Homo sapiens: one gene and its partners. The protein of the gene in region 3 purifies or fractionates together with the protein of the main gene of each other region. This does not show direct contact. Each region holds a gene or a part of one and is shown on either strand. Other genes may lie near its edges. The genes, in order: TOR1AIP2, MGAT5B and ABHD18.

What was found.
Region 1: the proteins of ABHD18 (region 3) and TOR1AIP2 purify together in Homo sapiens (affinity purification with mass spectrometry; 2 studies listed by BioGRID and IntAct, with this or other methods). This does not show direct contact.
Region 2: the proteins of ABHD18 (region 3) and MGAT5B purify together in Homo sapiens (affinity purification with mass spectrometry; 2 studies listed by BioGRID and IntAct, with this or other methods). This does not show direct contact.

Annotation. Positions count from the first base shown.
Region 1 is NC_000001.11:179,844,998-179,855,008, forward strand, and holds part of TOR1AIP2 (torsin-1A-interacting protein 2), read right to left. Parts: intron 7,815-10,011; 5' UTR 7,669-7,814; coding exon 7,635-7,668; intron 6,367-7,634; coding exon 5,848-6,366; intron 3,878-5,847; exon of another isoform or gene 3,228-3,877; intron 2,640-3,227; coding exon 2,538-2,639; intron 1,832-2,537; coding exon 1,074-1,831; 3' UTR 1-1,073. UniProt on the Homo sapiens protein: Required for endoplasmic reticulum integrity. Regulates the distribution of TOR1A between the endoplasmic reticulum and the nuclear envelope as well as induces TOR1A, TOR1B and TOR3A ATPase activity.
Region 2 is NC_000017.11:76,862,050-76,872,328, reverse strand, and holds the start of MGAT5B (alpha-1,6-mannosylglycoprotein 6-beta-N-acetylglucosaminyltransferase B), read right to left. Parts: upstream 3,926-10,279; 5' UTR 3,300-3,925; coding exon 3,232-3,299; intron 1-3,231. UniProt on the Homo sapiens protein: Glycosyltransferase that acts on alpha-linked mannose of N-glycans and O-mannosyl glycans.
Region 3 is NC_000004.12:128,015,567-128,025,577, reverse strand, and holds part of ABHD18 (protein ABHD18), read right to left. Parts: intron 8,216-10,011; coding exon 8,077-8,215; intron 5,499-8,076; coding exon 5,409-5,498; intron 4,442-5,408; coding exon 4,340-4,441; intron 1-4,339.

The DNA of each region.
Region 1 (10,011 bases), on a different chromosome or scaffold from region 3:
AAAGCATCAGAGACATGCTAGTAAATGCTAGCTTATACATTCTGCTGTTCATGTATAGATCTTTATCCTTCATAAATAATGTATCTATACAATAAACCTGTATTTCATCTTCCTACTCATAAGATTTAATACATTCATTTTTTAAACATATTTCCTATCTTCTAAGATGTTTTTTCACTTAATCAATGGTTTTCAAACTCGAATATCAGTGAAACTCTTTGTTCCAATGAAATCTCATAGAGAACCCCAACATATAAAACAGTTAAAAGCAGAACTGCTCTGATACAAAGGGGAAGGGTGCCAGTAGACACAGTTTGAAAATCAATGCTGTAAATTGTTCAAGAAAAGCTGAAGTAAAGATATAGCCAATTGGAATTTCTTCATTTCCAATGATTATAAACAATTTCCCCACTGGTTCTCATTTTTAAGAACATTTGAGTACAGCTGCTTATACCTCAGCTGAATGAAATAAAAGCACAGTGCCTTACATGTAGTATTTAGGTAGGTACTTAATGGTTTGAATTCTTATTTCTTTTATCATACTACTCAAAACTGCAAAATTAATATAAGATATAATCCCGTAACTTTAGATTATTAAAGTAAGGTTTGAAAATATTCAACATGTGATAGAAAAATTTTCTAAAGGTTATCATTGCTTCATAATTCTAATTGCTTTAGTCCAAGTCCAAACATTATCGAAAAGGTTCTTCAGAGTCTCACTCAAGAAAAAAAAAAAATCACTCTGTAGTTACTCTAAGAAGTAAGAGTATCTTCCTGTGCAATGTTGCTATATTTTAGAATTTAAAAAAAATTCTCATATATATCATCGATATTTCAAACCTGATTTGGTCCAAAGAAAAAAAGTCAGGTTAATTTTTAGCTTTGTCAAGGCTTAGATTAGAAAGATTTTACAAGGAATAAAAAATAAAAACTTGTTTCTAAAATAAGCTCATCTTTGTTTTTCAGGCTATTTCCTCAAGCTATTTTATCAACCTCCTTCCATATAAATGGAAGGTCTTTAAACAAACTTTTTCATAAACATATACCTTCTGTAACCAACTCTGTGCTTAGCTTTAGAAAAGGCACCCCTGTTCTTCTATGCTACTCACTGGCTGGACTGGCAGTACCAGGTGTGAAATTCGGCTCCACAGCCCACTCAATTTGTCTGAGTCCATGTGGTTGAAGGAGGTGGGAGTGTCAGAGTTGGTAAACTTGGCCCAGAGTAAGTCTCTCACTTTTTCTTCCGTTTCCCTTGGGCCTACACTTGCTTCTAATGTTTCCTCCTCTAGCAGAACAGTCAGGACCAGGGCCACATCTTTAAAGGCAGCATTCTCATGATCACAATACTTATAGAAGATCAAAGTGGAGCCGGCAGGGAAGGATTCGAAGTGGTGTACCACAGCAGCCTTCTGGCCATTCTCAAACCCATAGCTCAGCTCCAGGTCAACCAACAGCTTGACCGTGTCACTGTCCTGCCAGGTCCTTCCAGCCCCATCAATCTGAATGGGAGAGACTTTCTGGGAAGAGGTGTAGGCATCTGCAACATGGTGGCTCAGGCACTTCAGGGTCTCTCTTCCCTCCCGAGCTGCTGTAAATATGATGGTGGCTGGCTCAGTGGGGTTGGAAGCATTGAGGTGCTTCTGGAGAAACTTCCGTCCTCTCTGCCACAGGAAGGAACTCTGGCCTGGAAATTTATCTTCCAATTGGCTAAACTGGGCCAAAAAGGCCTCCAAAGCTGGATTTTTGGGCACTTGCTGGGCTGGAGAGGAATAGTAGCTATTCACAGAACTTGCCACAACAGCCACAACCAGGACGACAAGAATCACAGGGCCTGTCAAAAGAATGAAAAAGGAATAGAAAATTACAGAGAACACGAGCCAGAAACAAAGCCTGTGGTAAACTGAAATGAGGCAGAGATACCAGCAGGTTTTACTAGGAGCAATAAGTTTCTTTTGCATAAATTGTTTAAACTTTCAATCCACCAGAAGTACCTTTTCTCTAATCTCTTCTCAGATTTAATTATTTGAAGATATATCTGTTAAAAGATAAAAGCTACGTGGAAGAGTTAAGTACTCGGTAAAAAATTTTTAAAAATAAAAGGTAAAAGCTGAGTCTATGTATTTGTTATTATAACTAATGATGTAATTTAGACATGAGTGATCAAGATTTTTTTTCATCTTCTCAATGCACCTACTACCTATAGCCGACCATTTTTTTAGGAGTCATAACTTTAAAGTGCACTTGAAAAATTAATATTCTCTAATTAGAAAGGCAGTTTTTGTTTCTTGTTTAGGAAAAGCCTTTCCTATTGTGAGAAATTCCATTTTGTTAAGCACAGCAAAATATCAGCCAGCACCCGTAAGGGAAAAATCCCTAAAACTCTAGTGTACTATTTTACTATGTCTCACTACCAATCATTAAATAAGTATATATAAACACAATGTTAAAACTGTTTAAATCTGCTAGTTTTCTAGGCATTTTCACTGAGGATTTCTGAAAGTGAATCAACACTGCAGTAAAACCAGGTTTGTTCTCACCATAGCTCCAAAAACCCTTTTTATTAATCTGTCTCATGGTGTCCTGTGCATTCTCTTTAATTTCTTCCAATTTTTGTGTTTGTTGTGGATGACTTCCAGCCTCTGGAGAGGAAAAGAATCAATATTATTTTTAGGCAGTACACTAATGACAGTATGTATACCTTTATATCTCTCACCAAACCAAAGAATGATTTGACTAAAAGGCTTTCTATACCTTGGCCAGGTACGGTGGCTCATGCCTGTAATCCCAGCACTTTGGGAGGCTGAAACAGGTGGCTCACTTGGGGTCAGGAGTTTGAGACCAGCATGGCCAACAAGGTGAAACCCTGTCTCTACTAAAAATACAAAAATTATCGGGCATGATGGCGGGCGCCTGTAATCCCAGCTACGTGGGAGGCTGAGGCAGGAGAATCGCTTGAACCTGGGAGGTGGAGGTTGCAGTGAGCCGACATCGTGCCACTGCACTCCAGCCTGGGGGACAGAGCAAGACTCCATCTCAGAAAAAAAAAAAAAAAAAACCAAAGTTAACATTTTTCCTGTCTTTTCTTTAAGACTATTACTTTTATTCTACTTAGAAGGATAAAATGAAATACTGTGAAATTCATTCAAGGATAATGTTGCTATATTCACAATTCCTTACTGCCTCTTATATCAAAGACAAAGACATTTAAATAGTGCGGCCAAACTTACCTAAAATGTAATTCAGCAAAATGTATAAAATCAAGAAGGGATTTAAGAAATGTTGGCTGTACACAAGATTCAACTTCACAGGGTAATTGTGCTCTAATTCCAGTGTTCGAGTTTCACATGGTTCCTCAAGACCCCGAATATAAAAATAACAGAGGCACTAAGTTCTAAGATAGGAGAGATTAGTGTACAGTTGCAAAATAGCTTACAGAAGCAAATTTGAAACTCTTAGTGAAGGAGATATACAAAGCAAGGAATATAAGGTGAAGAAAATTCACGAAATATGTAAAAATCCAGATGTAGGGAGGGCATGCCAAGCTTAAAATATGTGGGTGAAAAGAAGGGCAACAATTTTTAGCACTCTAAGCTAAATCACACTAGAATCTAAATTTGTGCTTAACCCCAGCCAGGTACTTCTATTAGCATAGATGAGTAGGATCATCTTCACTTATAAAGGATTGTTCCTATCACCCCAAAGAGTAGGTTCTTAAAATATCATATCATAGAATCTAAGAACTGAAAGGATCTATAATGGACACCTACTCCGGCCCCATTACTTAACCTATCATGAAAAAAGGTCCAGGGATATTAAAGATCTTGCCCAAGGTCACATAAAGAGATGTAGCTGGCTGGGCGCAGTGGCTCACGCCTGTAATCCCAGCACTTTGGGAGGCCGAGGCGGGCGGATCACAAGGTCAGGAGATCGAGACCATCCTGGCTAATACGGTGAAATCCCGTCTCTACTAAAAATACAAAAAAAAAAAATTAGTTGGGCACGGTGGCGGGTGCCTGTAGTCCCAGCTACTCGGGAGGCTGAGGCAGGAGAATGGCGTGAATCCGGGAGGCGGAGCTTGCAGTGAGCCGAGACAGCGCCACTGCAGTCCGGCCTGGGCAAAAGAGTGAGACTCCATCTCAAAAAAACAAAAAAAAAGAGATATAGCTAAGTTGAGATGAAAACAAAGTTTCTCATCTCTTAGAGTATAGATAACCTCATTCAACTATATTAAATTGCTTTCCATACATAAACTGCATTTTTTTTTTTAAAGACAGGGTCTCACTCTGTCAACAAGGCTGGAGTGTAGTGCTGAAATTTCGGCTCACCACAGCTTCAACCTCCTGGGCTCAAGCAATCCTCCCACCTCAGCCTCCTGAGGACTATAGGTGCATGCAGCTGTTTTTGTGTTTTCTGTAGAGATGGGTTTTTGCCATGTTGCCCAGGCTGGTCTTCCTGGCCTCAAGTGATCCACCAGCCTTGGCCTCCCAAAGTGCTAGGATCACAGGAGTGAGCCACCACCCTTGGCCTAAACTAGATTTTTTTAAACAATATTTTTTCTACTCACAGTGAACCTGCCTAACAGTGAATTTTTTTTTAAGAGATGGGATCTCACTAGATTGCCCAGGCTAGCTAGAATGCAGTGGCTATTCACAGGGGTGATCATAGCACACTGCAGGCTTGAACTCCTGGGCTCAAGCAATCCTCCCAACTCAGCTTCCCAAGTAACTGGGACTAGAGGTGTAAGTAATTGCACCTAGTTTATAACAGTGAAATTCTGACGCAGGTCATGGTCCTTACAGATCACATTCATTCATTTGACAAAATTCATAAAGGTGTTTCTATGTGCCAGGTGCCAGAGATACACAATGAATGAGAGGACACAGTCCTTGCCTTCACTGAAGTTACAGATTATTCTAATGATTAATAAATAAAACATATATTTGAGATTAGTCATTGATTTGCAGTGAAACATGAATTACTAGCCCTTGCTGAAGTCCCTGATGAACAGAACATCTTATATTTTATATTCTTTTGCACTGGCAAATGGGCATTTCAGACTGAGCTCTTCAGAGTGCTTATAAAATACAAACCCACACAGACAATCACAGAAGGTGAAAGTTAGAAGAATGTTTGGATATCATCTTGTCCAACTTCTTCATTTTACAAACAGGAAATTGAAGCACCAGGAAGGGAAGATTTTCCCAAGGTCTCCCAAGTCAGCAAGTGGTAGGGCCACAACTAGAATTCACACCTCCAGTTCCAGTTAAGGATTTAGCACACTGCAACGCTTAGCTTCATAAGGGAAGACATGCTTGTTCCTCTTAACATATAGGCAGAAAAAACCACGTATAGAGAAACTAACTGTCTTACTCAAAGTCCTATAAAACTGAAACATGACTGAGTTAAGGATACTGTCCCATTAATGCTCATTTTTAAATATACCCATCTCTTGATTTATGTAACATTTAGTTTCCCAAAAAGTAAAAGATTTTAAAAATTGTAAGTCGAAATATTCTCATAAGAAATAAAAAACCAGAAGCGAATTTTTTAAAAGTCATGCCCCTTTTTGTCATATCACATTAATATAAACAGTTAATAAAAACATGCTTAGAAATGCAGTTTATGTGTAGGAAGCAACTTAATATAGTGGAATGAGCTAGCCTAGATGAGAAACCTCATTCTAAAATCAACTCAGTCATGGCTTGGTGTGAGCTTGGGCAAGGCCCAAAGGCCTTACTCCTATGAAAGATGACAAAAGTTCTCTGGAAAGAAGGCCTCTGACTTCTGCTGTGTTCTCAGTTAACAGAGCAGTACAAAACAGGAGAGTAGTTCAGGGGGTTCTCTTACCTGGGGCCAGCAGTCGCCTCCTCAGTGTATCCTCACCCTCTTGCCCTGCACTGGAATGACCAGGACTCTGGGCCTCCTGGGAGTCTGTAGTAGGTGGTTCCTGAGATGCTCCAGTTCCGTCACTCGCTTCCTTAGGGAGGGCCACAGAGCTGCTCCCTAAGTGTGCATCTGCTCTTCCTACCTTGTCACTTGGAGAATGGCTGGGATCTGGATCCAAGGGTTCTTTACCCAGATTTTCTGAAGGGAGGTGATGCCCTTTTCCGCCATCCAGAAAACTCTGCTTGTTCTCATCTTCTGTTTTATCCTTTGGATGTTTCCCCACATTTGCTTCATCTGGACTTTCTGATTTATCACCTGTATCTGCACTTTCTGGACCTTCTGTCTCTACCTCTTGGTGGTCTTTGCTAAGACCACAGGCAGAGTGTAGGATCTCAGCTTCTTCAGCATTACTTGCTATGATTGTGGTCTCCTGCGCCTGAGAATTTACTGATGGATCATTTTCCAAATCCTTTTGAGAGTCTATTGAGATAAAAGTTTATAATTTTTATTGGAAAAAATTCCCCATAAATTTATATTTTAACAAGGTCCCTGTTTAATAATAATATTTACATAGATTTTCATGGTTTACAAGACACTTCCTAAACATTATTTCTCTTGGCTCCCACTAAAGGCAATTAAAACAACAACAAAAAAAATCTTATCATGTTAATAAATATAAAATGACACTAATATAAAACAAATTATATGACAGAACAAACTTTTGGCTATATTAAATATATCCTCTTCCCTAATGAAAGGCAATGCTCATCAATGGTAGCAAAACCTTATGCAAAAGGCTGATAGGGACTTTTATAGTGGATGAGCCAGACTGACAACTGCTGAACCCAGCGACCAATCTTCACATCATGAAAACAGGGAAACCCAAACAGATATCATTTACTTTCTAATACAATGCAGTAAGAAGTACTCTAGACCACTTGGGAAGTATTTTTGCCAAACAACTAAACTTAAATCTGGTAAGTTTCTAGAGCAACCAGTTTCCAAGAAATATAGGGATACAGGAATACATTAAATTATGCCTCAAGAATATAATCAGCAAAACCCAGCACGTGGGAAATTCCAAAAGACTTTGTTTCTTTAATAAAAGTAAGAATGGCCAGATGTGGTGGCTCATGCATGTAATCCCAGCACTTTGGGAGGCCAAGGCAGGTGAATCACCTGAGGTCAGGAGTTCAAGACCAGCCTGGCAACATGGTGAAACCCCGTCTCTACTAAAAATACAAAAATTCACTGGGTGTGGTGGCAGGCGCCTGTAATCTCAGCTATTCTGGAGGCTGAAGCATGAGAATCACTCGAGCCCGGGAGGCGGAGGTTGCAGTGAGCTGAGATCACGCCACTGCACTCCAGCCTGGGTAACATAAAAAAAAAAAAAAGGAGAAGAAGAGGAAGAAGAAAGATACCTTCTAAATATAGCACATCACAGGATATATATAACTCTAAAGATTTGTCTACCATCATTTTTTAAAGAAGCATTGTATTTTTCCATTACTATAAGTCCTTACTATTGGAGTCTCTAAAACATTTATCTTCCTTATATTATAATTAGGGTCTCGCATTATAGTAAAATTCAGTAAATTTGAAAGAATAAGTATAATCAAAACAAATGAACCCACTGAATTAGCTTTTTTACTTCAAAACCTCAGATTTTAGTCATCAGAGATTTTCTCTCTCTGCACACCCCTGGTTTCCTACAGCAGCAACCTCAGTGCCAGACAAATCAGTCTTACCCTCTTGAGGTTCCCTAAGTCCACTGTCGGCCATGTTTGTGTTCTATCTCTTCAGAGTTGGGAGGATACTTTTTTTAGTACTTGGTTTTCCTTGTGAAGATGTCTTGTTTTCTTCTTGTCCCAAGTCCCAACAGACTCATGCTTCCCATGGACCCAGGAAATAAGGCATATATACAGTGACTAAAACAAAATGAAAAAAAATTAAATGACTTTTTATCCATACAAGGGAGAAATGCAAGTATCAGCTTTATTTATTAAATATGTGTAGCTTGAGTACTATTTCCTCTGTGAAACTTTTTTCGTGAAGAAAATTTCCTTTCATGAGAATCATATTCCAAATCCTAGACTACTGAAAAAAGCTCCAGATTATTAATCTTTCATGAATTTCATAATCTAATATATTCCAGCATAGTTGAAAGAGTATAAAAAGTAAGATCAAGTGACCAGAATCTTCAACAGACTAGCTTGAATTAAAATAAAAAATAAATCTAAGAGTAGAAATTTAAGTCATTGCTGAAACAATCACTGCAGATTTCCTGGATGTCTTCAATTTCTGTCCCAGATAATTTTCTCATAGTCTGCCTATCAGGAGCTTTCACTTATATTAAAAAGTAACAATGCACAGGAGGTTCCCACAAACTGAGATGGCTGCTTTGAGGTGTACCACTACACATTTGGACTGACTTTGAAGTGGTTTTCTCGAAGTATTCTTTTGTAAAATATGGAGACAGATATTCCTTTATACAATGCCTTTTTATGCAATGCTCAAAGACAGACAAAGAAAATTATTAAGGTTTACACAAAAGGAATCAAAATCAAAGGCACTTTATAAGCAATAAAAACAGTCATATTTTATAGTTCTTTTTTTTGTCAAAAACAAATTGATCAATAAAGTTACTTAATATTTATTCCCTATGAAAATGAGAATAATGATATCTATGAGGCTTAAATACAAAAATATATAAGAAAAACCTGTGTGAAGTGTTATAGTTTTTTGACAGCCTAGCTGGAAGGCTAGCCAACTGGCCGTCTTTATGTTTTTCTCAGTACTCTTTTGTAAAATTTAAATTTACACATTAAAAACTTTGATCCCCAATGCCTACACGGTGCCTAGTGTATAGTAAGAACTCCATATTTTAACTTAAAAGCTTATGAAAAAATAAATGAATGTATAAATAAAGAGTGATGCCATAGATAAATTGGAAGGGAAGAGAAGAGTTAGGGACAGATTTTCTTTCTGCCACTGTGAACACTTAGCGAAGTGTTCAGAGGGTTCCTTGTCAGCTCTTTTATCTTCTTCAAGCTCCTGGGATTGGGCTTTCAAGCCATCATATGTTGGAATGAAGTTTTCTCTCCTATCCTAGCTCATGACAGAAAATAAAAAGTCCCCAGTCCTTTTTAAGTTTTGTTAAAAAAATTTTTCCTGCCAGCCAAAACCAAGAAAATAGGCTAAAAGTTTCCTATGTACCAATAACAAAAATTTTCAAAAGGAATGATGCTACTCACAATAACCTTAAGGAACCTAGAATAAAAACTAAAAGATACCTAGTAATAAATCCAACAAGAGATATGTAAGATCTTTAGACAGTGGTGAATTTTATGGTATGTAAATTATACCTCAATAAAGCTGTTTCTTTAAAACACAACTTTAGAGAGAAAAATATAGACCTTTATTGAAGTCTATAAAAAAGAGATAAGTAAACAGAAAAAAAAATATCATGCATAGACAAATAAGACTCAAAACCATTGATGCCAATTTTCTCCAAATTAATCTACAAATTTAATGCAATTTGAAACAAAATCTCAAGTTTTTTGATTATTGTTGGTTTCTAGTGAAATGGAAAAGTGGGTCCTAAAATTCACAAAGAGCAGCAAAGGATCAAGAAGAGTCAGCATAATTCTAAAGAAGGGGGGCAATCTTTACCAGATATCAAAACTTCTTTAAACTTAAAAATAGGGTGGGCACGGTGGCTCATGCCTGTAATCCCTGCACTTTGGGAGGCTGAGGCGGGCAGATCACCCAAGGGTCAGGAGTTCGAGACCAGCCTGACCAACATGCTGAAACCCCATCTCTACTAAAAATACAAAAATTAGCCGGGCATGGTGGCGCATGCCTGTAATCCCAGCTACTCAGGAGGCTGAGGCAAGAGAATCGTTTGAACCCGGGAGGCAGAGGTTGCAGTGAGCCCAGATTGCACCACTGTATTCCAGCCTGGGTGACACAGCAAGACTCTGTCAAAAACAAACAAACAAACAAAAAACTTAAAGTAATAAAAGCAATGGAACACTAGCACACGAATAGACAAACAGTATACAGAATAGAGAGTCAAGAAATATATGCATACATACATAAGGAAATTGGCCAATTCACAAAAGG
Region 2 (10,279 bases), on a different chromosome or scaffold from region 3:
ACTCAGGCCAGCCTTGGTGCAGTGTGCAGAGGCCTTGCTGCAGCAGTCATGAGCTTGTTTGAACACCCCCCTCCACTTCCACCACTAGATGGTAAGATGTCCAGGGCAGAGCCACACGGCCCATGCCCAGGCTCCCCCCAACACACATCTCCCCTAGGCAGGCACGCCCAGGGTCATCAGCCTGCACCACGGACTGGCCAGGGTGTCCTCATACCTGTGCAAGGGGTGTCATATAGGTGTGTGTGCTGTCACACTGGGTGGGAGGGAGGGCTGGTCAGAACAGGACTCCTGTTCCTGCCTTCAACATGTAGTTATTGATTATCCAGCAGGAGCCAGGCTCTGGGGTAACCCCAGGGGGACAGCAGGGAACAAGGCACAGAACCCTTCCTTCCTCAAGTCCAGACCCAGGGTCCTGCTGCTTCCCTCATCAATCCTAGGCCCCAAACAGGCAAGCTGAGCTCACCAGCACAGCCTTGGGGCTCTTCTGGGAACTTGAACCTATCAGAGGACTTGATGAACTGGTAGAGCTGAGAGGGGCGCCCTCCCACCAACCCCAGATCAGGGTGAGGAACCCCATCTTGTGTGGAGTCAGGCTCCCTGGAGAGAGCCCCACGTCATGCCAGAGACCTCCGGGCCTTGCCCCTCCACTCCCCGCCCTCAAGTTCCATGCTTGTTTGTGTCTTTATGCAAGACTTGCTTTATGCATTTTAATCTTCATTATTTGAAACTGGCAGAGCAGTATTTAATTAAAATTTGGTCCATTAAAGAAAACATATAATTGCAGAAGGAAATAAAAAGCACAACAAAATTCCCAGCCCATATTTAAAGGAAGCTGTTAGAGATTTGGGCAGAGAAGAGGAGAACCCCAAAGCAGAGAGGGGCTTGGGAGCTCCAAGGAGAGACTCGAAGACCACACCCCCAGCAGGAAGGACAGGAGACATGATTCAGTAGGCAAGACCGCGCAAGGGACACTTTCCTTAGCGCAGAGGGACGCCTCACGGAATTCCACCAAGCCTGGGGGTGGGGCTCAGATCTTGGGGTCCCTCAGAGGAAGTCAGGTGGCTCTGGAGACAACAGCCACGGCCATGGCACAGGAGAGGTGCTGTCCCATGCTCAGGGAGATCCCAGGGGAAATCAGCTATTTGTCCTCCCAGTCTGAGGACAAGGACGGACTTCCCCCACTCATGTCTCTAGTCCCTGGAGAAGAGGCCAGGGGAGTGAAGGAGTTGTATTTAGAGCTGGGGACCTGGGCTGCCTGCCAGGATCCAACAACCCTGCTATGAGAAAGGTGTCTACCCCCTTCAGCCCAGAACCTGAAGCCCCCTAACACACCTCATCTGCATCTCCCTCTGCCAGAACCCCATCCTGGGGTTCAATGTCCCCCAAGGCAGCTGGGGGCCATTTGGAGTGGATTCAAGTTAAAATGGCTTCAGCCATCCATGTATCCACTCAAGCAACATTCCAGGGGCACCTATGGAATAAAGACCCTGCCAGCAGCCCTGGGAAAACCACAGGGAACAGGACCCCAGCCTGCCTTTGAGGATGAATAAGCTGGGGTGCTATGATTGCAGCCTGCCCCCCACCTCAACTGAAGGGACTCACTGATGGCTGCGGGTCTCCGGGCAGCCCAGGGAGACCCTGGGGTGAAGTTACACAACTTTGGGGACCCATGCACCTCCACCCCCAATCCTGCCTTCAGATAAGGGCCTGAAAGAAAACCAGGGCAGGACCAGACAGGGAAGCAGCCCTGGGTCGCGAGCACTGTCCGTGGTGCTGGGGTCTCGCGGCTGCTTCCAATCGCGCCAGGAAACACCCAGCGGCCCGGAGGGCGGGACAGGGATGGGGTCGGAAGGGGCGAGGACCCTCCAGCGTTCCCAGTCAGGCCAGGGATTCAAGGCCTTCCCTGGAGGAGCAAGGCCCTTTCCAGAGACGCCTGCTTCCCGCCCTGCTTCCCATGGGCTCCCGACGCCCCCATCACCACCCACGGCCTGCACCAGCTCTCCGGGCCTCCCGGACCCCCGGACCGCAGAGGTCCAGCCTGACCCCTGCCGTCCCCTGGGGTTGCCTCCTCGGCCCAGCAGACAGGCCCGGTGTGCTGGGAGGCGGGCTCCAGGTGAGCCACCGTCTCCCCGCCCCCATCCCCGTCTGGAGCCGGCAGGGGGACCACAGTGGGGCTGGGCCGAGACCTGGAGGGCAAGAGTTCAGGGCCCCTGCAAGCTCCGCCTTCTCGGGCTCCTTCCCGCGCCCGGAGCCCACCTGTGGCCACGTCCCGAGTCCGGCCCCCGCGCCGGGGCGGTCACTCCCCCAGCTTCCTCGCTGCCCAGCTACCCACGGGGTGACACTCGGGCCCCGCCGGGCGTCCACTGGGCAGCGCCCCCTCCCCACCCCGCTGCGGGCCGGTTCCGCGGATGCCTGGGAGGAGAGGGGGCTGCCCCGGCACCGCTGGGCCCTGGGGGCCCCTGGCTGGGTCCAGTGAGTCCCGCGCGGCCCCAGCCCTGCCTGGCCTGGGCCCCCAGGTGTTGGCCGCCCGAAGCGTGTCGCCTTCGCCACCGCCCGCCCACCACGCTCCGCCGCAGCCTCGGCTCCAGCCGCCCCGTAGCCCTGCAGCGCCGCCCCTGCCCCCGCCTCTCCGACGCCTGCGATCGGGGGCGAATCCTGGGATGAGCGAGTCCTCGCTCTAATCTCGGGACCCTCTCGTCGGAGCCAGGCCCGAGCCCCGCGGGGAGGAGAGCAGTGCCACCAAAGGCTGGGGAGAGGGTGGCACAGGCGGAGGGGTTGGGGGGTAGCCGACCTAGGGGCAGACGGGCGGGACGGGAGGGACCGGAGGGGGAGCTCCAAGGCGCCGCACACTAACTTTGCCACCCGGATGGGACCGTCCGCGGGGTGAGGAAGGACCCTGAGGGGCTGGGAAGGGGCGCGCAGGCTGGGGCAACTTTCTGGGCCCAGGACCACGACCTGGGGGTTTTCTGCCCCCATTCTTACCTCTGCACCCCGAGTCCTCTCCAACCCTGCCCAACTCGGGACAGGTCCCCGAATAACACAACCCTCCCCATCCGCACCCCGAACCCCAACGCCATCCGTTCCCCCAGCCCAGCCCCACTGGTCATCACCAGGGGTTGAAGTGTGAACCGCCCCCTCTGCCACCAGGACTTGAACGTTCGCAGGAACCGACCTCGCCCACCTCCACCCGGCGCCCCCCTGGGGAAAAAACCAACCAGGAGGGAACTTTACCGAAAGGGTCTCAGGGTGACCAGGCATCTTCTGACCATTATCTTCCCATCGGGGTTGACGGTGATCATTGTTCAAACTTGTTGGTGCGAGCAGCCGCGGGCGAGGCCGGACGCACCGTCCTGGGCCCAGCTCTCGCCGCGTCCGGGCCACGAACCCTCTGCGGGCCGAAGCCGCGTCCGAGCGAAGCTGGGAGCGCGCGGCCCGGTGGCCTCGCTGCTCAGGCCTGGGCGTGCAGCGGAGGGAGCGGCGCGGCTGCCGGAGGGCGGCGAGGGCGCCCGGCCGGGCCGTCTCTGCGTCTCCGCCCTCCCCGCTTCACATTTTGGGGACCGGGAGGCGGCGCGCCCCCAGACCGCCGGCCGCGCGTCTGCCTGCTCGGGCTCGCTCGCTGGGCGGGAAGGTGCCGCGGCGCGCAGACGGGCTCCCCGCGGCGGGCGCCCTCATCCCCGGCCCCGCGCCCTCGGTGCCGGCTAAAGGCGGCCCCGGGCCCGCGCCCCGGTCCCCAGCGCCTCCGGGCCGCGCCGATCCTCAGCCCCGCGCCGCGCCGCGCCCATGGCTCTCGACGAGGGCAACCCGCGCCCGCCGCGCGCTCTCTCGCCCGCTGGCTCCGCCGCCCGCGCTCTGGTGTCCGGCGTCCGGCCCCGCGCGACGCTACGCCCGGAGGCGCCGCATTGTTCCTCGGAGGAGGCGGCCGAGCGGCGCTGGGGCGGCCCGGGAGCTGCAGCTGCGCTTCCAAGGCGCGCCGGCGCCACCTCGTGGCCGCAGCCCCGCTGTGCGCCCTGCCCGGGGCCGTGCGGGGCTGGGACGCCGAGGACCAGCTTCGAGGACGGGCGGGCGGGGGTCCCTGCTCCTTCCCCTGAGCCAAGCAGCTTCCCAGGGCGCCACCAGCCCCGAGGGCCGAAAGCTGCTTTGGCTCCCGCAGAGCACAGAAGAGATGCGCACCCAGCGGAGACCCTTCTCTTCTGCCAGGTGCCTCCGTGGGCTTCCTCATCAGCCGCTTCCCACGATTTCGCTTGGCAACACATGCCTATCTTCTGCCCCTCCCTGGTCAGAAACTCCCGTGGCTCCTCTTTGCTTACTGATCTGAGTATAAACTCGGCCTGTGGTGCTGGGGCCCGCTCACAGAGCCAGGCGCAGGGGCGTACTGAGTTGTAGCCCCAGATCCTCCACTAGCCAGTGGGCGATCAAGTGTGCACGTCTCAGAGTCTCCATTATGAAATGATAGTGACCAGAAGCTCACCAAGGTCCCTTGCAACCCTAAAGCATGTAGGATCTCATGTCGTCTCTTAGCATCTAGGCGTCCTCCCCTCCCCCTCCTCGTACTTCCTGGCTCTGGAGATGTGTTTGCAGTTGCAGAGACAGAGACTCCTGGGAGCTCGCAGAGCCAGCCTGAAGAAAGCTCTCCGGCTTCAAAAGCACTTCCCGAGGTCATATCTGACCACCCCACCCTGGGAAGTGCCCAAAGCCTCAGTCATGTGTCAAATGACTCTGAGGGTCTTCCCAGCTCAGGCCACGATGCTGCAGCCTGGCTTATGCGAGGAGGAGACTTTATTTTCCTCCAGCTGGGCCTGGTCCCCTCCAATCCCCCATACCCAGGCCCCTTGCTGCCTGCCCTGCCCACCTCCCGGCCCCCTTCCTGGGCCATTACTCACTGGCCATGACTCACGCTCTCTGCTTTGCTGCTCCTTCTTCATCAAAATTTACCGGTGCTGAGTTCCATTATCTCACTGCCTTGCTCTCTGCTAATGTGAAAATGGGTGATAAATTGGTGTTAGCAGATATAATGTGTTACACAGGCTAGGTAACAAATTTGCATTGAACAAGGACATGCTGACCGTGCCTTTGTGCAGAAGAGTGATGAATGGTGGCCGGAAATTTGGGCATCGTGGCAGGCTGGCTAAGGAGATGTTGGAGGGCAGAGGTCTCTGCCAGGCCTGTAAATCACATCTCATGCCTGGGTGCCTACATCTGCCACAAATCCTGGCAATAAGCCATATCTACACTAAGGAATGAAATGGTCCTTCTGATTAGGTGTCTCTCTTCTGATTGGGGGTTCTTCTGATTGAGTAGGCTTAGGGGGTGGCATTTATATCTGGTTGCCATTTTAGGCCAAAGGGGAAGCCTCTTCCTCAGTGGTGGAGATGGGGTTCCCTAGAAGGCATGGCCACCTCTGGTGTGGGTCATCTGGGGAGGTGGCCTACCCTCCACAGAAGCCAGAATTTAGAAGGTAGGGGAAGGTACTCCCCTCTTCCCCTGGGCCACACACCCTTAGATCTGGACTTTGAAGTTGGAGCGGGAAAGCCTCTCTGCCATTTGACGGCTGGCTTGGGCCAGGGAGGGAAGCAAGCAGAGGACAGCCAGTGACTTTTTTTTTTTTTTTTTTTTTTTTTTGAGATGGAGTCTCGCTCTGTTTCCCAGGCTGGAGTACAGTGGCGCAATCTCGGCTCACTGCAAACTCCGCCTTTTGGGTTCAAGAGATTCTTCTGCCTCAGCCTCTTGAGTAGCTGGGATTACAGGCACGTGCCACGATACCTGTAATAAATGCCTATAAAAATGCAAAATTTTTGTATTTTTAGTAGAGACAGGTTTCGCCATGTTGGCCAGGCTGCTCTCAAACTCCTGACCTCAAGTGATCCGCTTGCCTCGGCCTCCCAAAGTGCTGGTATTACAGGCATGAGCCACTATGCTGGGCCAGCCAGTGGCATTTTGCAAGCCAGATTGTCCAGCTGCCTGTCCCTTTTGAAGTCTGTCCCCTTTTTTTGGCCTCTTGTCTGCAGTAAAGTTCAGTGTAAACAGTCCTGCTTGCTCTCCACTGTGCTGTAGGCATTAGGAGAAAAACTGTGAATCCCACATCATGCAGTCTTGGGTATAACCTCTTCATGCCTCAGTTTCCTCAACTATAAGTGGGGCTCCTTATAACCTGCTTCATAGAGCTGTTCTGAGGATTGAGCCGCTTAATGCAGGTAAGTAGCCCGTTGCCAGGACCTCCTGAGCCTTTCAAGCATGGTGGTTCTGATGGTTGTTACTGTCCGTCAGGAACAGATGCTGTTTGTGCCCAGTCCTGGTTCCCACTGCAGTCACCTCTGCAAGCTAAGAGGCAGATGACTGAGAACACCTTCAACTCTCTGCCTGAGGACTTTTTTTTAATGGCTGTGGGAATATGCTAGAACACAAAAGGGCAAGAAGAAAGGACCCTGGACAAAGGATCAACACCCTGGCAGCAGCCCTCAAGCAGTGGATAGACACCCCCACTCCCTCTTCCTAAGGGGGATACTCCGCGGCGTGTTACCCCGTGGCTCCCCAGGTTCCCAGCAAGTTTGAGCTCCAGTCACCCGTGGTGTAGCCAGCCCTGTGATGCCCCTGTGTTCACTCCCTTCCCTCCTGTCTCATTCCACTCCCCGGTCAATGTTCCTGGGGTCACCATCCAAATAAACCACTTGCAGAATCCTATTCTGAGCATCTGTTTCTGGGGGACCCACACCAAGATCCCAAGATCCTGCCTCATCGACTGGTGGTTCTCAGCCCAGATTCCAGCAGAATCACCTGCAGAATTTAGCAAAATTGTCCTTATTCTGATCCAGTACCTGAGGTGCAGCCTGGGCACGCTGGTGCATTGATGCCACAGGTTATGCCGACACAGGCAAGGTGGGGAAGCACTGTTCTAGACAAATACTTGTGGCCTCCTGAGGAGAAAGGAAAGTCTCTGGAAGCAAGCCAGAGAACAGGGGAGTAGGAACGGCGGCACCTGCTGCAGGGCCCGGCCAAGGACTGACGGTGGGCCAGGCGCCGTGACTCACGCCCGTAATCCCAGCACTTTGGGAGTCTAAGGCAGAAGGAATGCCTAAGCCAAGAGCTTGAGACAACCAGCCTGAGCAACATAGTGAGACCCCATCTCTACCAAAAACTTTAAAACTTATCCAGGTGTGGTGTCATGCACCTGTAGTCCCAGCTACGCAGGAAGCTGAGGCAGGAGGATCACTTGAGCCCAGGAGATCGAGGCCGCAGTAAGCTATGAGCGCACCACCGCACTCCAGCCTGTGTGACAGTGCGACGCCCTGTCTCTTATAAAATAATAAATAAATAAGGACTGACATCAGGTGTACCCATTTCCAAACCCCATCCCTCTTCACTGTTTCTCTCCTGAAGCTATCAACAGACCCACAACCAGCCAAATGCAGAGCAGGATGCACATTCACCCGGGTGCCCTAAATATAGCAGTTCCTGGCAGGGCGCGGTGGCTCATGCCTGTAATCTCACCACTTTGGGAGGCCAAGGCGAGTGGATCACAAGGTCAGGCATTCGAGACCAGCCTGGCTAACATAGTGAAACCCCGTCTCTACTAAAAATACAAAAAATTAGTTGGGTCTGGTGGCGGGTGACTGTAATCCCAGCTACTCAGGAGACTGAGGCAGGAGAATCGCTTGAACCTGGGAGATGGAGGCTGCAGTGAGCTGAGATCACACCACTGCACTCTAGCCTGGACCACAGTGCAAGACTCCGTCTCAAAAAAAAAAAAAAAAAAAAAAAAAGCCAGGTGCGGTGGCTCACGCCTATAATCCCAGCACTTTAGGAGGCCGAGGTGGGCAGATCATGAGGTCAGGAGTTCGAGACTAGCCTGACCAACATGGTGAAACCCCGTCTCTACTAATACAATAATCCCAGCTACTCAGGAGGCTGAGGCAGGAGAATCGCTTGAACCTGGGAGGCAGAGGTTGCAGTGAGCCGAGATTGTGCCACTGCACTCCAGCCCAGGCAACGGTGCAAGACTCCGTCTCAAAAAACAACAACAATAATAAAAAAAAGCATTTCCAGCCCCTCCCCCTGCCCCTGGGTCCTGCTGGCCTGGCTGGAGGGGTCAGAAGAAGCCCACAGTCAGCAGAATTCCCTGGCCAGGCAGTGGAGGCCTGTGTCCAAACAGGCAGAGGACTCGGGAAGGGTGCAGTGAGGTAAGTCCTGCCATTCAGAGGTCCAAACTCAAAATACTGACAGGGTGGGCCAGAAAACAAGGGAAGGGGAGTGGGGTGTTTCCCAGGCAATCGCAACAAACCACAACAACCTGCGTGGTTTAAGGCAACTGGAATTTATTTCTTCACATTCACCCTGCTCAAGGGGAGGGGCTGGAAGTGCTATATTTAGGGCACCTGGGCGAATGTGCCTCCTGCTCTGCATTTGGCTGGTTGTGGGTCTGTTGATAGCCTCAAGAAACAGTGAAAAGGGATGGGGTTTGGAAACAGGGACACCTGATGCCAGTCCTTGTTTATCTATTTGTTATTTTATAAGAAAGGGCATCGCACTGTCACACAGGCTGGAGTGCGGTGGTGCACTCATAGCTCACTGCGGCCTCGATCTCCTGGGCTCAAGCGATCCTCCTGCCTCAGCTTCCTGAAGTCCAGAAGTCTGAAATCAAGGTGTTGATACGGTCCATTTCTTCCAGGCTCTGAGAGATAAACCACCCCAGGCTTTTCTCCCAGCTCCTGGTAGCCCCAGGCAGCCCTTGGCTTGTAGCTACCTCACTCTAGTCTCTGCCTTATCTCCATCTGGCCTTCTCTGGGCGTATCTCTGTGTGCCTGAAAATCCCTCCTCTGGTAAGGACACTACTCATTGATTTAGGGCCCACCCTAATCCTACAGGACCTCATCTTAACTAGTTAAATCTGCAAAGACTCTATTTCCCAATAAGGTCAGAGTCTGAGGTTCTGGGAAGACATGGATTGGGGAAGAAACTGTTTAACCCACTACGGGGACCTAGTTCAAATGACCAGTGTGGCTAAAGACCGTCAAGGGCTGCAGCCCCCGAAGGGGACACGTCACCATTGCATTGTGTGACTGTGGGCCCAGTTATTTCAAGAGAAGCCAGAAATCTGGGCTTCTCCTGTGAAGTCGCATAATTTTAAAATGTAGGCTCAGTATTTTTAGAACATTGTGCAAGACCAATAAAATCCACCGGAAGGCCTACCATCTGGGCCCCCTGCGCGTGTCACTGGAGGGCAGAGCAGTGAGCCCACCAGCCCACCCACCTGGCAAGTCCAGCTTCCCTGAACTACCCCACCACCCTCAAGCCTCAGGCCAAGCTGCCCAGACACCTGCCTGCCCCAGCGAGGAAAGTCAACAGTCCTAGGTGCACTCTGGGGGTGGGAAGGCTGGGCTGCTTCCTAGGGACCCCTGGACCCCCTCACTGGTCCCGCTGGAGCCTCACTGGGCATCAGAGGCTCGACTGCCACTCCTACCTTCTGAAGGCTTCAAGGTTGTTTTTAGAGCTCATAGACGGGGCCTGGGGTGTGTAGAGGGAGAAGAGAAACAAGCCATTTACCATGTTTGAAATCCCCATTTAATGTGCTCCGACTGCAGCAGCACACAGCACATTACGAGGCAATAGGCCATTGTCCTTTGCCGTAGTGTGCAGCATTAATAATGTCATAACAGCATTTACTGACACCGCGTACAAATCAGCAACAGTGGCACTGCGCGGGGACAACTGGCCCTCACACACTAGCCACCTCGAGTGCAGAGGCCACGAGGTGGGGAGAGCTGCTTCTCCAATGCATATTTTATGCTTTCTGTTTCACAACATTTAGACTAATCCTCTGATTGAAAGGCAGCGTCTAGGATTTATTTTTATTTATGACAGAAGGCCATTCTACCGCACAGCTTGTGGGAGCTGCGAGCAGAGCTATTGTACTTGCCCTGTTCTGCAGGAAAGGTAACCACTGTGTCTGGGGTGTGTGTGGCCAGCCAAGCAGGCACCAACCAGACAGGCAGCCCTCCTCCTCCACATAGGCCCCATCCCAGTGCTGGAAACACAGGCGAACACTTTATCATGATCAGGAGATTCCACTTATTGAGCATCTACTATATGCCAGTGATACGGTTTGACTCTCTGTCCCTACCCAAATCTCATCTGGAATTGTAATCCCCATAATCCTCACCGTGTTGAGGGAGGAACCCCGTGGGAGGTGATTGGATCATGGAGGTGATTTCCCTCATGCTGTTTTCGAGATAGCGAGTGCGTTCTCATGAGATGTGATGGTTTTATAAGAGGCTCTTCCCCCTCA
Region 3 (10,011 bases):
GCAAAAGATGAGAAACAACATAAACATCTATCAACAGGGTACTGATTAATTATGGTACATCCATTCACATAATAGACTATTATATAGCAGTAAAAAATAATAAGGAAACACTTTGTATAGTCCATAAAAAAGGGAAGTGAGGCTGGGCACAGTGGCTCATACCTGTAATCCCAGCACTCTGGGAGGCTGAGGCAGGCAGATTGCTTTAGCCCAGGAGTTTGAAACAAGCCTGGGCAACATTGTGAAATCCCATCTCTACAAAAAATACAAAAATTAGCCAGGTGTGGTGGTGCATACCTATAATCCCAGCTACTCAGGAGGCTGAGGTAGAAGGTGACAGAGCCAGACCCTACCTCAACAAAATAAAAAGAAAAAGATAAAAAAAGTTCATATTTTTATTGGTTTGCACATGGACCAAAAATTCCCTGAAACACTAAACAATATAGGTTGTTATTTGTTGATGGGGATTGGACCTAAGCACAGATGGGGTAGGAATCTTTTCACTATATGTATCTATTTATACTTTTTGATGCTTGAATTATATGACCATACATTTTTTTTTTAAGTTAAAGAATTAAAATTGGTTGGCCGGGCGCAGTGGCTCACGCCTGTAATACCAGCACTTTGGAAGGCCGAGGTGGGAGGATCACCTCAGGCCAGGAGTTCGAGACCAGCCCGACCAACATGGAGAAACCCCGTCTATACTAAAAATACGAAATTAGCCGGGCGTGGTGGCACATGCCTGTAATCCCAGCTACTCGGGAGGCTGAGGCAGGAGAATCGCTTGAACTCAGGAGGCGGAGGCTGCGGCGAGCCAAGATTGTGCCTCTGCACTCCAACCTGGGCAAAAGAGTGAAACTCCATCTCAAAAAAAAAAAAAATTAAAATTGGTTGAAGGCAAGGAAAACAAAAATACCGAACAACCTGGTTACCACAACAAATCACTATAAGAGGAAGGAAGTTTAGTAACATATGGAAATGTAAAGATCAAAGGGTCCCCGAATTACTCAGAGTGGGACATCAATAAATTGAACTTTTTTTTTGACTGGGAAAATACAAAGAGTAGGGAAAACATCTTAACATTTATTGAATATTCGTTATTGTGAACTGGTTCTAAGTGAGATGAGAAGTGCCAAATAAGACTACCGCTATGGTTTAAATATGTCCCCCAAAGTTCATGTGTTGGAAACTTAATCCCCAATGTAATAGTGTTGAAAGGTGGGACCTTTAATTAGGCCATGAAGGTTCTGCTCTCATAAATGGACTAATGCCCTTACTGTGGGAGTGGGTTAGTTACCGGGAATGGATTCCTGATAAAAGAATGAGTTCAGCCTCTTCCCTCCCTCTATCTCTTTTGCACACACACACATTCTCTCTTGCCCTTATGCCTTCTGCCATGAAATAATGCAGCAAGAAGGCACTCACCAGATGTGGGCCCCTCAACCTTGGACTTTCTAGCCTCCAGAACTGTGAGCCACATATATCTCTGGTCTTATAAATTTCCCAGTCTCAGATATTCTGTTACAGCAACACAAAATTGACTAAGACAACTACATTGCAATTTCAGATGACCAAAATTTATAAACTTCCTTTAAAACATACATGTAAGTTTCTCATAAACTTTCAAATACAGGTATTCTTCTGATTATATGTATAGGAACTAACTAGCAGGTAAAGCTTTTTTTTGTTTTTTTGAGACGGAGTCTCGCTCTGTTGCCCAGGCTGGCGTGCAGTGGCGTGATCTTGGCTTACTGCAAGCTCTGCCTTCTGGGTTCACGCCATTCTCCTGCCTCAGCCTCCCGAGTAGCTGGGACTGCAGGCGCCTGCCTGCCACCACGCCCGGCTAATTTTTTGTATTTTTAGTAGAGATGGGGTTTCACCGTATTGGCCAATATGGTCTCGATCTCCTGACCTCGTGATCTGCCCTCCTCGGCCTCCCAAAGTGCTGGGATTACAGGGTGAGCCATTGCGCCCAGCCTTTTTTTTTTTTTTAAGAGAAATGGTCTTGCTCTGTCACCTGGGCTGGAGTGCAATGACACAATCATAGCTCACTGCTACAGCCTTGAACTCCTGGGATCAAGTGATCTGCCCACCTCAGCCTCCTGAGTAGCTAGGACTACAGGCATGCACCACCATGCCCAGCTTTTTTTTTTTTTTTTTTTTTTTTTTTTTTTGTAGAGACAAGAGTCTCACTTTATTTCCCAGGCTGGTCTCAAACTCCTGGCTTCAAGTGATCCTCTTACCTCAGTCTTCCAAATTGCTGTGATTACAGGCATGTGCCACCACGCCTGGTCCCGATAAAGCTATTTTGTAATAAAGTTCTTAGGCAAGCAATCAACTACCTTTTGAAGTTACGTGAGATAGACCTACTTTACAAGAGTAAAGTTTACAGTGATTTAATTATAAATAAAAAGTTCTCATTCATAGTAGAAAGATTTCTTTTTTTTGAAGTTTCTTAAGAGTCTCAGTATCTTTCAAACAGTAAAAAATTTAAATTCATGAAAAGGATTGCTGGGCGCGGTGGCTCATGCCTGTAATCCCAGCACTCTGGGAGGCCGAGGCAGGTGTATCAGGAGGTCAGGAGTTTGAGACCAGCCTGACCAATATGGTGAAACCCCATCTCTACTAAAAATACAAAAATTAGCTAAGCATAGTGGCGCGTGCCTGTAGTCCCAGCTGCTCAGGAGGCTGAGGCAGGAGAATTGCTTGAATCTGGGATGCGGAGGTTGCAGTGAGCTGAGAGCTAAGATCGTGCCACTGCACTCCAGCCTGGGCGACACAGCAAGACAGAGAAAAAAAAAAAAAAAAGAAAAGGATCGGTCACTTTTGAAGAGCAGTAGGAAACCAATTCATCATCTTGAAAACTGGTAAATTACAGAAAAAAAATCAAGCATTTACCATAACTGCCTTTCTTATACAAACTGAACTACCATGTAACTAAATAATATATGAGGTAAGTGTCTCCCTATAAAAGTATTCAAATACATGAAAAAGAAATAATAGAATATCAGCAACCTTCAATGAATTGATATAGTCATTAAGCATCAGTAGAGGCTTATATCATAAAAAAAGAGATAATCAGATATTATGTGTTTCCTATATAGCCTTGTGAAAGAAATCAAAACAATGAGTTTAATCAAGCCTTTAGATCCAACTGCCAATTTTCAGGCAACGTAGAGCAATATGCTGAACTGTACCATGAGAATGCAATCAGAAAAATCTAGATTGTGAGAAACCCTACAGGTCAAATAACCTAAATTCTTCATGAAATAAATTATAAGGAAAATAAAGGGATGGAAGGCAAGTTATCTTTTTTCTTTTTTACAGATTGATTGATTGATTTTTTATTATTACACTTTAAGTTCCAGGGTACATGTGCACAACGTGCAGGTTTGATACATAGGTATACATGTGCCATGTTGGCTTGCTGCACCTATCAACTTGCCATTTATATTAGGTATATCTCCTAATGCTATCCTTCCCCTAGCCCGCCACCCCTCAACAGGCCCCGGTGTGTGATGTTCCCCGCCCTGTGTCCAAGTGTTCTCATTGTTCAATTCCCACCTATGAGTGAGAACATGCGGTGTTTGGTTTTCTATCGGAAGGCAACTTATTAAAGGTACTTCAAATAAAAGAACTATAGGGTCTACAGATACACATTTGGATAATAAAATTATTTTAAAGGCAGAAGGAGTAATTACTATAAACATAAGGATAACGATTACTAATAATGCAGGGAGGAAGGCCTTGTGATTAGGACACATTTGAAGGGGTTTCTGGGTTGGGTGGTCAAGTTTTATTTTTGACCTAGGTACTAGTTACAGTGTGTTTGCCTTTTAATAAATGTAGTAAACCACATATTTGCTTTGCATGATTCTCTGTATCTGTGTTTTATTTTAAAAGAATTTTTATTTATTTATTTTTAAGACAGAGTCTCACTCTGTCGCCCAGGCTGCAGTGCAGTGGCACAATCTTGGTTCACTGCAACCTCTGCCTCCTAAGTTCAAGAGATTCTCCTGCCTCAGCCTCCTGAATAGCTGGGATTACAGGCACCTACCACCACACGTGGCTAATTTTTGTATTTTTAGTAGTGATGGGGTTGGCCAGGCTAGTCTCAAACTCCTGACCTCAAGTGATCAACCCACTTCAGCATCCCAAGGTGCTGGGGTTACAGGTGTGACCCACCATGCCCAGACAAAAATGAAAAATCTTTTAAAGTAAAAAATAGTATGTACAGCTATGTTTTTAAAAATTTGCTATTCTCTTTAAAAACCTGAATCATTAAATATACAATCAACTCCCCCCACCACCAATGTTGGGTGGAAAGTGAAATACTTACTCCACAGTATTCAAGCATGTGAATAATTTCTTCTTCATAAACTGTCTGGGTATAATATTGCTTTTCCAGCTCCCTCCAATTAATTGATTTACTCAACACACCCTGAAATAATAAGCTAAATTAAGATCAAACCACATCATAAGGCAATTTGCCCAATACTTTTATTATTATTACTGTGTGAGACTACCTTTTTTTTTTTTTTTTGCAGACGAAGTCTCACTCTGTTGCCCAGGCTGGAGTGCAATGGCACTATCTCGGCTCACTGCAACCTCCACCTTCTGGGTTCAAGCAATTCTCCTGCCTCCGCCTCCCAAGTAGCTGAGACTACAGGCATGTGCCACCACGCCCAGCTAATTTTTGTATTTTTAGTAGAGACAGAGTTTCACCATGTTGGCCAGGCTGGTCTTGAACTCCTGACCTCAGGTGGTTCACCAGCCTCAGCCTCCCAAAGTGCTGGGATTACAGGCGTGAGCCACCGCACCTGGCCTAAGACTTCCTATCTTTAGCCTGCTTGTAAGGTTGGCCCTTAACTGGAGTCTGGGAACTTGACCAGTAAACAGCTTTCTATACTTATATAAAACTTTTCCTAAATGATAAGAGTGGGTCACTGTACCTAAACTGCTTATATAAACAATGCGGTTTCTGCTGAACACCTGCTTTCCTTCTGAATTTTTGGTGCATGCTAGGCAGAAGTTATCTAAGTCACTAACCCCTGATAAAAACTCTGGACTGCAAGGCTCAGGGGAGCTTCACTGATGGACAGCACTTTGCACTTATTGTCAATAATTATTGTTGGAAGAATTAAGCATGAACTGTAACACTCCACTAGGAGAGGACTCTTGGAAGCTTGTTCTTGGTTTCCTTTGGACTCTACCTCATGCGCTTTTTCCTTCTGTTGACTGTGTTGTATCTTTTGCTGTAGTTAAGGCTTAATCATGATTACGACTATATCCTGAGTCCTATAATTCTTTCTTTGAATCACCAAAGCTGAGGGTGGTTTTGGGGACCCCCCCAAAACAATTACCTCTAATTATATATAGCTACCTAATATTAATTACAATTAAATTACCGTAGTGAAGACCCCAGATGCTGTGGACCAAGACAGGCATGGAATCAATGGCATGGGCTTAGGCCAGTTGGATACCGCTAAGGAAGCCATCTGTAATATAACAGATAGAGAGCGTCTATTTAGAGTTTCTATTCATTAAAATAAAAATATTTAATATTAATAAGCATTCCGTGCAGTAAATAGTTGGTCAGATAAACACAAAGTCTGCAAACATTCGTGAGAATGTCTAGCCACCTCATTAAATTCCCCAAATCATAAATTCAACATTTAATTTCCCCCTTAGATAGCAATAAAATGTAATACAAAACTTTAACCTCAAGACCATTCGCTGAGAGCTACTTTCTACTGTGTAAATATGGAGCAAAGATGCTGAGATGTAGATGCTGGGCAGCAGGGTAAACACACTCATTACTTAAGTGACTTGCCAGATAGAGCAAAATCACAACTATAAAACATCAGACCATTGAGGTTGACTGAGTATGCCAAGAATTTGGTGAACTACAAAGCAGATTATATAATAGATCTAAAATAATGTAATGTGTGTGATTAGAGAAGGTAAAATCACTCTCCCTTTTGGAGAAGGGAAAACTTTATCTTTTCAAAAAGTTACTTTCCCTTCTGGGCTGGAGGAATCAGAAGGGAAAGGCAGGCTTCATGAAATGGATGAGTCTTCTAGAGGAATGAAAGATAGGGTCTTGTCTTCCAGAGAAAGAATCAGTATGATCAAAGGCAAGACTGTGAGAATGCACAGGGTCTCATAGGGAAACAGCCAATATACTTCAGTTGGGATGGTCAATAGGCACACATGGCCAATGGAGTGAGGGAGGTAAGTAGGGCTAGAAAGATTGATCAAGATCAGATTAGAGGTCCTTTGTTCTATAGATAATCGGGAATTAATAAAGAGGTCTGAGCAAAGGAGTAGTATTGTCAAAGAAGTGATTCAAAGAAGGTAACATGATAGTAGTTTACAGGATTGAATAGAGAAGGGGAGAACTGAGGTAGGAGACCAGTTAATAGGCAGTAATCCAGGTGAAAGTTATAAGGACCTGACCTAGGTGATAACAATGGAAACACTACTAGGTAGGAAAATAAATCCTTTTCCATCTTTTGTTTCACTGTCAGGTAGTTGTTTTGAATTTTTTTTTTTTTTTTTTTTGAGATGTAGTCTCACTCTGTTGCTCACGCTAGAGTGCAGTGGTGCGATCTCAGCTCACTGCAACCTCCGCTTCCTGGGTTCAGGCGATTCTCCTGCCTCAGCCTCCTGAGTAGCTGGGATTACAGGCACGTGCCACCACACCCGGCTAGTTTTTGTATTTTTAGTAGAGACGGGGTTTCACCATGTTGGTCAGGCTGGTCTTGAACTCCTGACCTCAGGTGATCTGCCCGCCTCGGCCTCCCAAAGTGCTGGGATTACAGGTGTGAACCACCGTGCCCAGCATAGTTTTGAATTTGAGTAAGTTTTTGAGCTTAATTTTCTAATTCAAGAGGCATACAGAAACTTCATATAATAATAATTATTACTTTGAGATAGAATCTCGCTTCTGTCTGGGTCACCTAATCAGGAGTGCAGTGGTATGATCACAGCTCACTGCAGTCTCAAATTCTGGGGCTCAAGTGATCCTCCCACCTCAACCTCCCATGTAGCCACAACTACAGAGATGTGCCACCATGCCTGGCTAATTTTTTAAACAATTTTTTTTGTAGAGACAGGGTGGGTCTTACTACTATGTTGCCTAGGTTGGGGTATTATTATTTTTTAGGCCAGGTGCAGTGGCCCACACCTATAATCCCAGCACTTTGGGAGGCCAAACTGTGTGGATCACTTGAGCCCACACACAAACAAAATACTAATAATTTTTTAAAAATGTACTGAGTGACTAATATGTGCCAAGTAATAAACCAGAGCATATTCCTGGCCCTCAATATCTCAAATGCTTCATGGAGAAAACAGACTGCTAAACAAGTCAGTAAAGTACAGTAAAAAGTTACTAATCAGAGTTTGAAGTATAGTCTGGAGGTAAGGCTGGGTGTCACAGCTGAAACAGAAGGGTAAGCTGTTACTCCTAGGTGAAAGAGAATAAGGGAGCACTAGAGAGATGCTAGCACGTGACACAGCTGGAGCCCAGTGTGCACGCAAGCTTTTGGCAGGTTTTGAACAAGACAGAACAAAGACTAGATTTAGAAAGATCACTGTAGTTAGGGTGTGGAGGAGAAATGGTTAAGACAAAGATTAATAAGAGAAAAGACTAGAGACAGAGAAAGCAATTAGGAATCCATTTTAGTACACTCTAAAAGGCAGACAAAAAGTAAAATAGGTTAGTGGTACTAGGGAGACAGATAAATGGAAAGTATTTTCCAATTCAGCTATCTTCACCAATGTAACAGCAAAATTGGGCATTTATACTTGAGACTTGAAAAGTTAAATTTTATAATTAATTTCTGTTAAATCTAATATCTGAGATACAACTGTGGAGTAGTACAATCAATAAATCGTACAAAAAATTAACATCATTACTTCATAATTGGAGTAAGAGTTTGGAATCTGTTTCTGCTTCCTACTTTTACTAAAACTAATTCTATACCTAAAGTGAATTTTTAAAATAACCAGGTTCTCTAGATCTTACAAACATAAACATAATTAAATGTAAGCAGAAATAAAAAGGCTTACGTGTCCTCCCATGGATATTCCAGTCATTCCTAAAGGGCCGTAACCTTCCCTCTCTAGCCAGTGCAAGAGAGCTGCAGATTCTAAAACAAGAGCTCCTCCCATCACAAAAAGGTCGGACACATTTTTTAAGCTGGACCTTCTAGCCTCACAAAACAAAATAGAAAATGATTATTTTATGTATTTACATGCTAATATATGCAAATTTACAACAGGCTGCCAGACTTCATGCATCTCTTCTAAAGGACCAGATAGTTAAGTAAAACAATGTAATAAATTGGAATTAGGGCCAGGCGTGATGGCTTACGCCTGTAATCCCAGCACTTTGGGAGGCTGAGGCAGGGGGATCGCTTGAGGTCAGGAGTTCAAGACAAGCCTGGGCAACATGGTGAAACCTTGTCTTTACTAAAAATACAAAAATTAGCAGGGCATGGTGGCGCATGCCTGTGATCTCAGCTACGTGGAAAACTGAGGCATGAAAATCGCTTGAACCTGGGAGGCAGAGGCTGCAGTGAGCTGAGACTGCACCACTGTACTCCAGCCTGGGCAACAGAATGAGACCCTGTCTCAAAAAGAGAAAAAAAAAATAGAATTACACAGCTGCTAACATTGGATTACATATCAAATCACCTAAAACTTAACAAAAAAAAGTGTTCCTGTTCTATAGCACATAATCTTTACTGAAATTATTATAACAGAATTTAAAGCATAACTTTTTATTTTTCTTTGAGACGGAGTCTTGCTCTGTTGCCCAGGCTAGAGTTGCAGTGGCATGGATCTTGGCTCACTGCTGCCTCCACCTCCAGGGTTCAAGCGATTCTCCTGTCTCAGTCTCCTGAGTAGGTGGAATTACAGGCGTGAGCCACCACGCCTGGCTAATTTTTGTATTTTTAGCAGAGACGGGGTTTCACCATGTTGGCCAGACTGGTCTTGAACTCCTGAGCTCAAGTGATCTGCCTGCCTTAGCCTCCCAAAGTGCTGGGATTACAGGCGTGAGCCACCACGCCCAGTCTTAAAGCATAACTTTTAAAAAAGGCAATATAAATAAAGAATTTAACCAAACACTAGGCTCATGTATTACTGAAATCTCAAATATGTTGCTTATTTTCACAAAATACATAATTTATGAATATAATAAAATATAAAACAAATACATTTTTATAAATATACATGTTTTAAATAAAGACCAACTGGAATTTCATTTTTAGAAGCTAATTTTACACAGAAGTATATTTCCTTATAAAAAGTATTTAAGCTGGGCACAGTGGCTCACGCCTGTAATCCCAATACTTTGGGAGGCCAAGGTGGGCAGATCATGAGGTCAGGAGTTAGAGACCAGCCTGACCAATAGGATAAAACCCTGTCTCTACTAAAAATACAAAAATTAGCTGGGCGTGGTGGCACGCGCCTGTAATCTCAGCTACTCAGGAGGCTGAGGCAGGAGAATCACTTGAGCCCGGGAGGTGGAGGTTGCAGTGAGCCAGAGATTGCGCCACTGCACTCCAGCCTGGGTGACAGAGTGAGGCTCCATCTCAAAAAAAAAAAAAAAAAAAAGTATTTAAATATATCTTTTTGGGTCCTAGAACCATCCGTATATAGTGATCAAAATAAATATATATTATTACTAAAATGACCAAATTAGAATCTACTTTTCAAAATGTAACTTGTATTAAGACACATGTAACTGGTTATTGAATGAAACCTTGCCAAAGTATACAAAAATTCATTTTACCAATGATTATTTATCATATGCCTACACATAATATGTGCAAAGAACCAGGTGCCAGAAGGAATGCCAAGTGTGAAAAACAAAATCTTGGCTCCCAAAGAGCTTACTTCCACTGTCCTACCAAGTCCTCTCAGAGCTCTAAGTCCAGAAGGGAGGGTTTCTTTTTATGGAAACTATGCTATCCTTCGTCCAAACAGATCATAGTCATG